3 linked regions of the Homo sapiens genome follow. The protein of the gene in region 3 interacts with the protein of the main gene of each other region in a pairwise test. Each region holds a gene or a part of one and is shown on either strand. Other genes may lie near its edges.

Region 1 (3,728 bases), on a different chromosome or scaffold from region 3:
GAAAGAACACTAAGGCAGGAAGTGGGTTCCAGAACTAGTCTGGTGAATGTTCCATGTGCTGATGAAAAGAACGTGTGTTCTGCAGCTATTAGAGTGTTCTGCACCTATTAGAATGTTCTGTAAATGTCAGGTCCATTTGGTGTAAAGTGCAATTTAAATCCAATATTTATTGGTTTTATGTCTAGAAAATCTGTCCAATGCTGAGAGTAGAGTGAAGTCCTCAACTACTATTGTATTAGAGTCTATTTCTCCCTTTAAATCTAATAATATTTGCTTTATATCTGGGTCATCCAGTGTGGGGTACATATATATTTATAATGATAATATCCTCAGGCCTGGCACAGTGGCTCATGCCTATAATCCCAGCACCTTAGGAGGCCAAAGCAGGAGGACTGCTTTGAGACCCAGAGTTTGAGACTAGCCAGGCAACATAGCATAACCCCATCTCTACAAAAAAATTTTCTTAATAAAAAAATATGATTATATCTTGCATGAATTGATCCTTGTTTCATTACATAATGACTTTTCTTTTTACAGTTTTTGACTTAAAGTCTATTTTATCTCATGTAAGTATAGTTATTTCTGCTCTTTTTTGGCTTCCATTTGTATGCAATATCTTTCTCCATACCTTCACTTTTGGCCTGTCTTTACAGGTGAGGTTTCTTGTAGGCAGCATACAGTCGAGTCATGATGGTGGTTTTTAATCCATTCAGTCAATCTATATCTTTTAAGTGGGAGAATTTAATCCATTTACATTCAAAGTTATCATCAATAGAGGTGCAGACTTTTTAAACAAATCTCTTCCCAGGAGAATCACTTGTTTTTTGAGAGACAGGATCTCTTTCACCCAGACTGGAGTGCAGTGTAGACTCACACTGTAATCACAGCTCACTGTAGACTCCAACTCATGACCTCAAGGGATCCTCCCAACTCAGCCTCTCAAGTAGCTGGGACTATAGGGATGTGCCAGCATGCCCAGCTAAATTTTAACTTTCTGTAGAGATGGGGTCTTGCTTTGTTGCCCAGGCTGGTCTCAAACTCCTGGACTCAAGAGATCCTCCTGCGTTGGCCTCCCAAAGCACAGAGATTACAAGTATAGGCCACCACACTCAGCCTTGATAGGTGAAGACTTACTTGTGTCATTTTTTAAATTGTTTTCTGGTAAAAATGCTAACAGTAACTAGGAGCTAAAAGATTCATTTGTTTTTTTCCTCCAGGCATCCACTCTGAGCCCCAGTGAAGAATGGTGGCAGCTGTAAGCACTACCAGCAAGTATACCCTACTGGTTGGAGAACTTTGTTTAAAGGATATAAGTTGTGTGCCTTCTGTAAATGACGATTTAATAATATCAATATCCATTTATCCTCTATAATCATAGTCAATACACAGAGAAAACCAAAAAATGCCAGACTTGGGTTGGGTTCCAAGATGGCCGAATAGGAACAGCTCCAGTCTACAGCTCCCAGCGTGAGCGACGCAGAAGACAGGTGATTTCTGCACTTCCAACTGAGGTACCAGGTTCATCTCACTGGGGCTTGTTGGACAGTGGGTGTAGGACGGTGGGTGCAGCCCACTGAGCATGAGCTGAAGCAGGGCAAGGCATGGCCTCACCCGGGAAGGCAAGGGGTCAGGGAATTCCCTTTCCTAGCCAAGGGAAGCTGTGACAGACGGCACCTGGAAAATTGGGTCACTCCCACCCTAATACTGCGTTTTTCCAATGGTCTTAGCAAACGGCACACCAGGAGATTATATCCTGTGCCTAGCTCGGAGGGTCCCACGCCCATGGAGCCTTGCTCATTGCTAGCACAGCAGTCTGAGATCGAACTGCAAGGTGGCAGTGAGGCTAGGGGAGGGGAGCCCACCATTGCTGAGGCTTCAGTAGGTAAATAAAGCAGCCGGGAAGCTCGAACTAGGTGGAGCCCACTGCAGCTCAAGGAGGCCTGCCTGCCTGCCTCTGTAGACTCCACCTCTGGGGGCATGGCATAGCCGAACAAAAGGCAGCAGAAATCTCTGCAGACTTCAATGTCCCTGTCTGACAGCTTTGAAGAGACCAGTGGTTCTCCCAGCACAGAGTTTGAGATCTGAGAACGGAGAGACTGCCTCCTCAAGTGAGTCCCTGACCCCCGAGTAGCCTAACTGGGAGGCACCCCCAAGTAGGGGCAGACTGACACCCCACATGGCCGGGTACCCCTCTGAGATGAAGCTTCCAGAGGAATGATCAGGCAGCAACATTTGCTGTTCAGCAATATTCGCTGTTCTACAGCCTCCACTGTGATACCCAGGCAAACAGGGTCTGGCGTGGACGTCCAGCAAACTCCAACAGACCTGCAGCTGGCGGTCCTGACTGTTAGAAGGAAAACTAACAAACAGAAAGGACATCCACACCAAAACCCCATCTGCACATCACCATCACCAAAGACCAAAGGTAGATAAAACCACAAAGATGGGGAAAAAACAGAGCAGAAAAGCTGAAAATTCTAAAAATCAGAGCGCCTCTCCCCCTCCAAAGGAACATAGCTCCTTGCCAGCAACAGAACAAAGCTGGACGGAGAATGACTTTGACGAGTTGAGAGAAGAAGGCTTCAGATGATCAAACTTCTCCAAGCTAAAAGAGGAAGTTCGAACCCATCACAAAGAACCTAAAAACCTTGAAAAAAGATTAGACAAATGGCTAACTAGAATAACCAGCATAGAGAAGTCCTTAAATGACCTGATGGAGCTGAAAACCATGGCATGAGAACTACGTGACGAATGCACAAGCTTCAGTAGCCAATTCGATCAACTGGAAGAAAGGTTATCAGTGATTGAAGATCAGATGAATGAAATGAAGTGAGAAGAGAAGTTAAGAGAAAAAAGAGTAAAAAGAAACGAACAAAGCTTCCAAGAAATATGGGACTATGTGAAAAGACCAAATCTACGTCTGATTGGTGTACCTGAAAGTGACGGGGAGAATGGAACCAAGCTGGAAAACACTCTGCAGGATATTATCCAGGAGAACTTCCCCAATCTAGCAAGGGAGGACAACATTCAAATTCAGGAAATACAGAGAACGCCACAAAGATACTCCTCGAGAAGAGCAACTCCAAGACACATAATTGTCAGATTCACCAAAGTTGAAATGAAGGAAAAAATGTTAAGGGCAGCCAGAGAGAAAGGTCGGGTTACCCACAAAGGGAAGCCCATCAGACTAACAGCTGATCTCTCAGCAGAAACTCTACAAGCCAGAAGAGAGTGGGGGTCAATATTCAACGTTCTTGAAGAAAAGAATTTTCAACCCAGAATTTCATATCCAGCCAAACTAAGCTTCATAAGTGAAGGAGAAATAAAATCCTTTACAAACAAGCAAATGCTGAGAGATTTTGTCACCACCAGGCCTGCCTTACAAGAGCTCCTGAAGGAAGCACTAAACATGGAATGGAACAACCAGTATCAGCCACTGCAAAAACATGCCAAATTGTAAAGACCATTGAGGCTAGGAAGAAACTGCATCAACTAACGAGCAAAATAACCAGTGAACATCCTAGTGACAGGATCAAATTCACACATAACAATATTAACCTTAAATGTAAATGGGCTAAATGCTCCAATTAAAAGACACAGACTGGCACACTGGATAAAGAGTCAAGACCCATCAGGGTGCTGTATTCAGGAAACCCATCTCACGTACAGAGACACACACACATAGGCTCAAAATAAAAGGATGGAGGAAGATCTACCAAGCAAACGGA
Region 2 (3,728 bases), on a different chromosome or scaffold from region 3:
GAAATCCAACAACTCTAAGACCTGGAGCAGACCCATTAGTAGGCTGTAGTACATCTCAAAGGCCTGAGTCCCCAGGGAGGCCCATGTCCAGGGTTTGGGAGTAGGTGAGGGGGGCACACGCCAGTGAGAATGGCTGCTTTGGCATCTCCCAGAGGCTCAGGATTCCACTCCATCTTCTGCTTCATCTCCCTGTGCCTGAGTGGGACTTGGTTGGAAGGTGAGGGGGTGGGGGTCACCTCAGATGGCATTCATCAGTGTCTCATGGCAGCAGCCAGAGCTGGGTCAGGGGGTCATGGGTGCCCTCCATGTAGGGCAGCACTTTGGACAGCTTTGGACTATCGCCAGTAGTGACCACCCTAAGGGACTCCTCCCTTCCTGTCCTGTCTTTCTAGTCTGTCGTCTATTGCCACGGAGGGCGTGTTGGCTTCTTCCAGGGAGATATCCGCCTTCTCTCAGATGACATGAAGGCTCTATGCCCCACCATCTTCCCTGTGGTCCCACGACTGCTGAACCGGATGTACGACAAGGTAAGTTCTGCAGGGAGTCTTCAGCCAGGCTGAGGGGCTGCATATTTGCTTGTTTGGACAGGGTCTGGAGCCCCAGGCAGGCTTTCAGTGCCTCCACTGCCAAGTCCTGGAACTTGCCTCCTCTCTTGTAGTTCCTGACTCTTTCTCATTCTTCCTTCTCCTGTTTTCTTCCTATTCTCCAAATACCCCTGCGGGAGAGATTTTTTTTCAGGAACTTCCATCTTCACAGCATGCCTGGACCCTGGCAGTGTTAACCTTCAGCTCAATGTCACACATTCAGTGACCTCCTGCAGGGGCAAAATGGAACATGGCTTCTCTGCTGGCCAGTCTGGGCCTTATTCCTGGGGGATATATCTAGAAATGAGACATTCAGGCTCTGACAGCTGCTTCCAACTTATGTTCCTCAGATCTTCAGCCAGGCAAACACACCATTAAAGCGCTGGCTCCTGGAGTTTGCAGCAAAGCGTAAGCAAGCCGAGGTCCGGAGTGGAATCATCAGGAATGATAGTATCTGGGATGAACTCTTCTTTAATAAGATTCAGGTAAGAAAATGAACAAGTGATTATAGAGTGACACCTAAGTATCCAACGGGTGACCTTGCAGGAGAACTGGAGAAGTTCATCCCAGTGCCCTGTAATCATGTGAAATAGTAACTCATTTGCTCATGAAATCAAAGCTTAAGCTATGATTGAAATTTTAAACTTAGACATTTTTGATTTTTGGAGATACGTTACATTTGAGATGAGCAAGAAGAAAACCTACTATGGATAGTAGGTCCCTTGATCTCCACAGGCAACAGTGTGGCTTTGACCTTGGGTAGTCAGGTCAGTGCTCCACTGAGAAGCTCCTGGGCCCTGAAGTTCTCTTGCCCCTCCCTGTAATCCTGGCCATGGTGGCTTTCCAGCAGCATGGGTCTAGCCAAATGGTTCAAAATCTTCTTTTTCTTTTCTGTGTTCTGTCCCTTTAGTATCTCCCACACCAGGCCAATCTTGAATTACTCATTTCTGTACCTCCTCAAAAGTTTTTAAACTCTGCATTATCCAAGGAATCTGTAGTCAATTAGTAGCATTATTCATTTTTTTCTTGCTACTCTATTTTTAGTTATGAAAATTAATATTTAAAATATCTTGGCTCAACTTACATAAACAAAGTGTTTCAAGTATTCTTCGTCCTCAGCAGTACATAGTAAATAAAGCATGGTATTGATTTATACATGAAAAAAGGCAATGCCATTAAAATGGAAATTGGAAGAAATTGTCCTAAGTAATTGTTTTGGATTCTTGTCAATGATGGGAGAGTGACGGAACAGCTGTGTATTTTAAGGAAGGGAGAAGAACCAATATTATAGAATGCCACCCAGACTGATGGTACTTATCTCAAAAGGCATAAAAGAATTGGTCATATGGTGGATTGAGCTGCAGAGCTGATTGTGTTTATCATTAGGAAGGGGAAGGAGTTTCCTCAGCTCGTGTGTTGTACAACCTCAGGCCTTCTTTCTGATCCCAGCCCTAGCATCCAGGTAGGACCCAGTTGTTGGATGTTGACCTTGGATGAAACCCAGATGGACTGGACACCATCTCAGACATCACAAAATTTGGCAGCTCTTCTTTCTTCCCACAGGCCAGTCTTGGTGGGTGTGTGCGGATGATTGTTACTGGAGCAGCCCCAGCATCACCAACAGTTCTGGGATTTCTCCGGGCAGCTCTAGGGTGCCAGGTATTGTCATTGTGTGTCCTCCCTTGGAAACAGCAGGAAGTTCGTTAGGGCAGGAAAACTACTATACCCTCTACTGCTCAGAGAAAGAACCGGGGGACAAGATTTTTGTGAGACAAAAGCTCCCTCCTCTGAGGAGGAAAAAACTCAGAGCCAGTGAAAGCCAGGATGGCATTGCCACATTCTGGAAAGCCCAGGTTTATCCACTCTGGGAAATTCTTTTATCTGGACCTTTGGAAGTTTTTCACAAAGGGCAAAGGGATCAGACAAACCATAGACAGATCATCAATGTGCGGTAGAATCTGTACCATACCTGTACTGCATCTCTACCTTCTTCAGCCTGCAAAATATCTTGCAACCCAGAAAAGGAGAACAAGGGAGAAAGCCCATTTATGTGTTATTTGATCTATTATGTTTTGTCATCTCTAAAAGTTTATTTCTTCATTTTCCATTCAGCTCATATTTATTAAGTTTCTGCATATGAAGGGTATCATAACGTGGTTGTGGCTGATGGATTTGAAGTAAAGTAGACCCATCTTTTTCATAATTGTGCGTGCTTAAATTTTTCTGCTTTAGAAGCCTTGATCTTTATTCACTGTACTCCTATTCCACATCAGCATGGCCTAACCACTTCTAAAGGCAGACACTCCTGCATGGTGTATTCATGCAAACAGGTGGGGCTCTGGAGGGGAATAGCTTATGGAGCCAAAATAAAACACAGAGTAGATTTTAAAATGTTTATCTTTAATTCATTATTATCCAGATGAAAAGTAGATTCAGTGGTTGAAAATAGGTCAGAAATCTTTACCCTAAACTATATAACCTTATCTACTAAGTGTCTGTGATAAAAATAGCACTTCTCACGCCTATAATCCCAGCACTTTGGGAGGCCGAGGTGGGTGGATCACGAGGTCAGGAGATCAAGACCATCCTGGCTAACACGATGAAACCCCGTCTCTACTAATAATACAAAAAATTAGCCACGTGTGGTGGCACATGTCTGTAGTCCCAGCTACTCGGGAGGCTGAGGCGGGAGAATGGCGTGAACCCAGGAGGTGGAGCTTGCAGTGAGTGGAGATCACGCCATTGCACTCCAGCCTGGGCGACAGAGTGAGACTCCGTCTCAAAAAAAAAAAAAAAATAGCACTTCTTCCAAGCAAATGTGGCCATGCTTGTTGTCTGTGTTCAGTTTCACCTGGAGTTATCTACCTCCAGAGCACCTCCCTCCCTCCATCGCCCTGATCATGAAGCAGTCAGACACGCTCAGTGGGAGGTTAGCTGTCTGGAAGGGGTGGCCAGTTAGCTCTTGGAGGGTGTGTGCCCATAGTGTGGCTTCTGTGTTTTGTTTGAAGGTTTATGAAGGTTATGGCCAAACTGAGTGCACAGCTGGATGTACCTTCACCACTCCTGGCGACTGGACCTCAGGTAGGATGGGCTAGAGATATAGGACTGGCTCGCGAGGCACTGTGGAGTAAAAGCAGCCAGCTC
Region 3 (3,110 bases):
CTCTCACAGCAAAGTCAGACCTCAGATCTAGGATTCTGCTACCATTAACTTACTGTAGAACTTCTCTTAAACTAGCCATGACCTCTGGACCCATTCCTAATCTGTAAAGGGAGGAACAACCATCCCAGGAGTGTTCTGTGATTGCCCCGTGTTTTAGGAAAAACTCTCCTCAAATCGTGTTTTCCCTCTACTCTCATGCCATCACAATCATCAACACAGAAGACTTCAGTGACCAAATGTGTGTGGGGTTTCCCCACCAAAAGCAGTGGACATCAGCCGGGTGTCCTCTAATTCAGTTCCAACACTATCTACCCAGAGACATTGTCAGACCCCACAGGTTGAGGGTTCAGTCTCCAAGACTGCCCCCCTCAACCACACCAGGCACAAGTCTAGGCCTCCAGAACTTCTGACCAACTGGCTTCAAGTTGAGTTCCCACGACCTCCTTTTTGGGTTCAATTAATTTGCTAGAGTGGATCACAGAGCTCAGAGACACACTTACTTATGTTTACCGGTTTATTATAAAGGATATCGCAAAGGATACAGATGAAGAGATGCACATAGAGCAAGGAATGAGGGAAGGGGAAGGAGTGCAGAGCTTCCGTGCCCTCCCTGGGCACGCCACACTCCAGGAAGTGCCAGGTGTTCAGCTATCCAGAAGCTCTCTGAACCCTGTCCTCTTGGGTTTTTATGGAAGGTTCATGACATCAACATTCCTTCCCCTAGGATTGAGACCCTCTCATGGGAAGGTCTTTAGGACCCACTGTGAAAAAGGTGGGCGAACATTAGTGAAAGGATACCCAGAGGTCAGAGGCCTGTCCCAAGCCCTAACATACCCAGTATTCTAACAAAGACTGGAACAAGGACTATGAGAGTTACGAGTCAGGAATGCTGGATGAAAACCAATATATATCATAACACCACACCCAGCATTGGCACTCAGCACACAGGTGTTAGAAACAAGTTACTCCTAAGCACTCTTCCTGCGTGGCCTCCGCCCACAGCCGCCCCTCACAGGGCTTTCAGCCTGCCAGTAGAAATCACTCGAGGGCCCACACATGCAAGGCCCTGGGCACACGGCACAGTCCTGACTCAAAGAGTTGGCCTCAGCTCCTGGGGGCTGCCCTGGCCTCATTCACCCTTGAACTCCCCAACTGCCACCCACCTTAGGCATTCTTTAAGCATCTGCTGCCAGGTCAAGACCACCACCTTCCGGGACCTGCAAGCCCCACCCAGCTCTGACTGGCACATGACCAGCTATGAGGGCCAGTCTGGCAGGACCGTATCCCGTGAGCTCACACCCTGCTGAGAAAACAGCACAGAAAGGGTGTATTTCTGGGTTGGGCACAGTGGCTCACACCTGTAATCCCAGCACTTTGGGAAGCTGAGGCAGGAGGACTGCTTGAAACCAGAAGGCTGAAGCCAGCACGGGCAACAAAGCAATACCCCATTTCTACAAAAATAAAAAATTAGCCAGGCGTGGTGGTGCGCGACTGTAGTCCCAGCTATTCAGGAGGCTGAGGCAGGAGGTCTCCTGGAGCCCAGGAGTTTGAGGCTGCAGTGAGCTGTGATCGCAACACTGCACTCCAGCCTGGGTGAGAGAGCAAGACCACAGCTCTAAAGAAAAAAAAAAAAAAAAAAGGAAAGGGTGTGTTTCTTTGCCTGGTACTTGCCTATTCCCAGTTCAACTCCTGAAAAAAAGAAACAATTTGATATATAAATACAGAGGTTTTTCAATAGATCATGTTTATTCCCAAGCCCCAACCAGACATGTTCTACCCCTCAAGATCCCTGAGACCCAGGCTGTGGGCTGGAAAATGAAGGCACAGTGTCAAGAGCGCCCCTGTTGGCATATGAAGACCCAGGAGTGCTGACCTTCAGGGATCTGCCTGCACTGCCCATGGGCCTGGCACAGCAGGAGGCACTCCTGTTTCTGTCCCTTCTGTCTCTGGTCTTCAGAGCAAGGTTTCTGCTGAGATGCTAAGGAAGCTGAGTCCTTTGTCAGCCCTGACTCTGACTGAGAGGCAGACAGGAGCCAAGGCCCCATTGAAGCTCCAGGATGACGATGGCCCTCAGGGGAACAGACGCAAAACCAGGCACGGGCCTGCCTTCCAGCTGGAATCTACCTGTCAGGCCCAGAACTTCTGTGCAGTTGGAGTGGGCTCCCCAGAAGGAAAAACAATACAGCTGAGTCTAGTGCTAGGGGACAGAGAACTGGGGGCTCAAGAAAGCACCCCAAAACGGGCTGCCAGGTTAAGGATCCATGGGGCTGAAGAGAAGTTTGCCCCAGAGCCCAAAGCCCAGTCTGCAGTCAGTGGGTGGAGATGAGAGGCAGCCTGGGCCCCTGCAGGGGCTGGGCCCTGAATCCTGAGGCCACCGTCACCTCAACATCACTTCCTACAGCAGAAAAAGGTCACTCTTCTTTCCAAAGGTGGTAACACAGCCTCAGAGCTTGCTCCGCGGGGCCTCTGCCAGGGGCCGCTGCAACCGCCACACCACCCTGACTGGCTCAGCAGCGCGGTCCAGCTCACGGAGGCCACCTAGGTCTTGGGTCTGGCTGTACTGCTGCAGGGCCGGCTGGAGCACCGTGATGGGAATGCTGAAGTTCAGGTGGGGGTAGGTGGCCCCCGTATTATTGTCCCGGGTGTTGCTGGTGATTATGCCTGTTGAGGAGTCAGAGAGCAAAAGAGGATGTGAGCCAGGGGGCAGAAAGGCTGGAGAAGGGAGGAGGACCATCTCCACCCTGGAGCCCCCAGGGCCTGGTAGGGCTGGATACCACCCCACGTGGTGACAGACGCTGAGCTTCTAGACATGAACACCTGCTGCCCACACCCTTTCCTGGCTTTACGTTTTCTCCTTAACACTCTCAAAATCTAACACACTAGATAGTTCACTTATTTCACTTGTTATCTTTCTCTCGACCTAGTGTCAGCTCCATAAGGGCAGGACTTTGAGGTTTTGTTCATGCAGTCTCCCCAGTACCTGAAACAGTGCCTTGTGCCAAGTAGGCGCGCAACAAAGGCTTGTTGAATGAATGAATGAATGAATGAATGAATGAATGAATGAATGAATGAATCAGACCCACAGACATATTTTGTTTGGCCTGCTCGGT

The links.
Region 1: the proteins of TYSND1 (region 3) and SOD2 come close enough for resonance energy transfer, tested with the Homo sapiens proteins (one large-scale study listed by BioGRID).
Region 2: the proteins of TYSND1 (region 3) and ACSL6 come close enough for resonance energy transfer, tested with the Homo sapiens proteins (one large-scale study listed by BioGRID).

The regions. Positions count from the first base shown.
Region 1 is NC_000006.12:159,669,192-159,672,919, forward strand, and holds part of SOD2 (superoxide dismutase [Mn], mitochondrial isoform A precursor), read right to left. Parts: 3' UTR 1-3,728. UniProt on the Homo sapiens protein: Destroys superoxide anion radicals which are normally produced within the cells and which are toxic to biological systems.
Region 2 is NC_000005.10:131,970,065-131,973,792, reverse strand, and holds part of ACSL6 (long-chain-fatty-acid--CoA ligase 6), read left to right. Parts: intron 1-392; coding exon 393-527; intron 528-934; coding exon 935-1,069; intron 1,070-2,147; coding exon 2,148-2,243; intron 2,244-3,592; coding exon 3,593-3,665; intron 3,666-3,728. UniProt on the Homo sapiens protein: Catalyzes the conversion of long-chain fatty acids to their active form acyl-CoA for both synthesis of cellular lipids, and degradation via beta-oxidation.
Region 3 is NC_000010.11:70,137,481-70,140,590, forward strand, and holds the end of TYSND1 (peroxisomal leader peptide-processing protease), read right to left. Parts: intron 2,662-3,110; coding exon 2,444-2,661; 3' UTR 501-2,443; downstream 1-500. UniProt on the Homo sapiens protein: Peroxisomal protease that mediates both the removal of the leader peptide from proteins containing a PTS2 target sequence and processes several PTS1-containing proteins.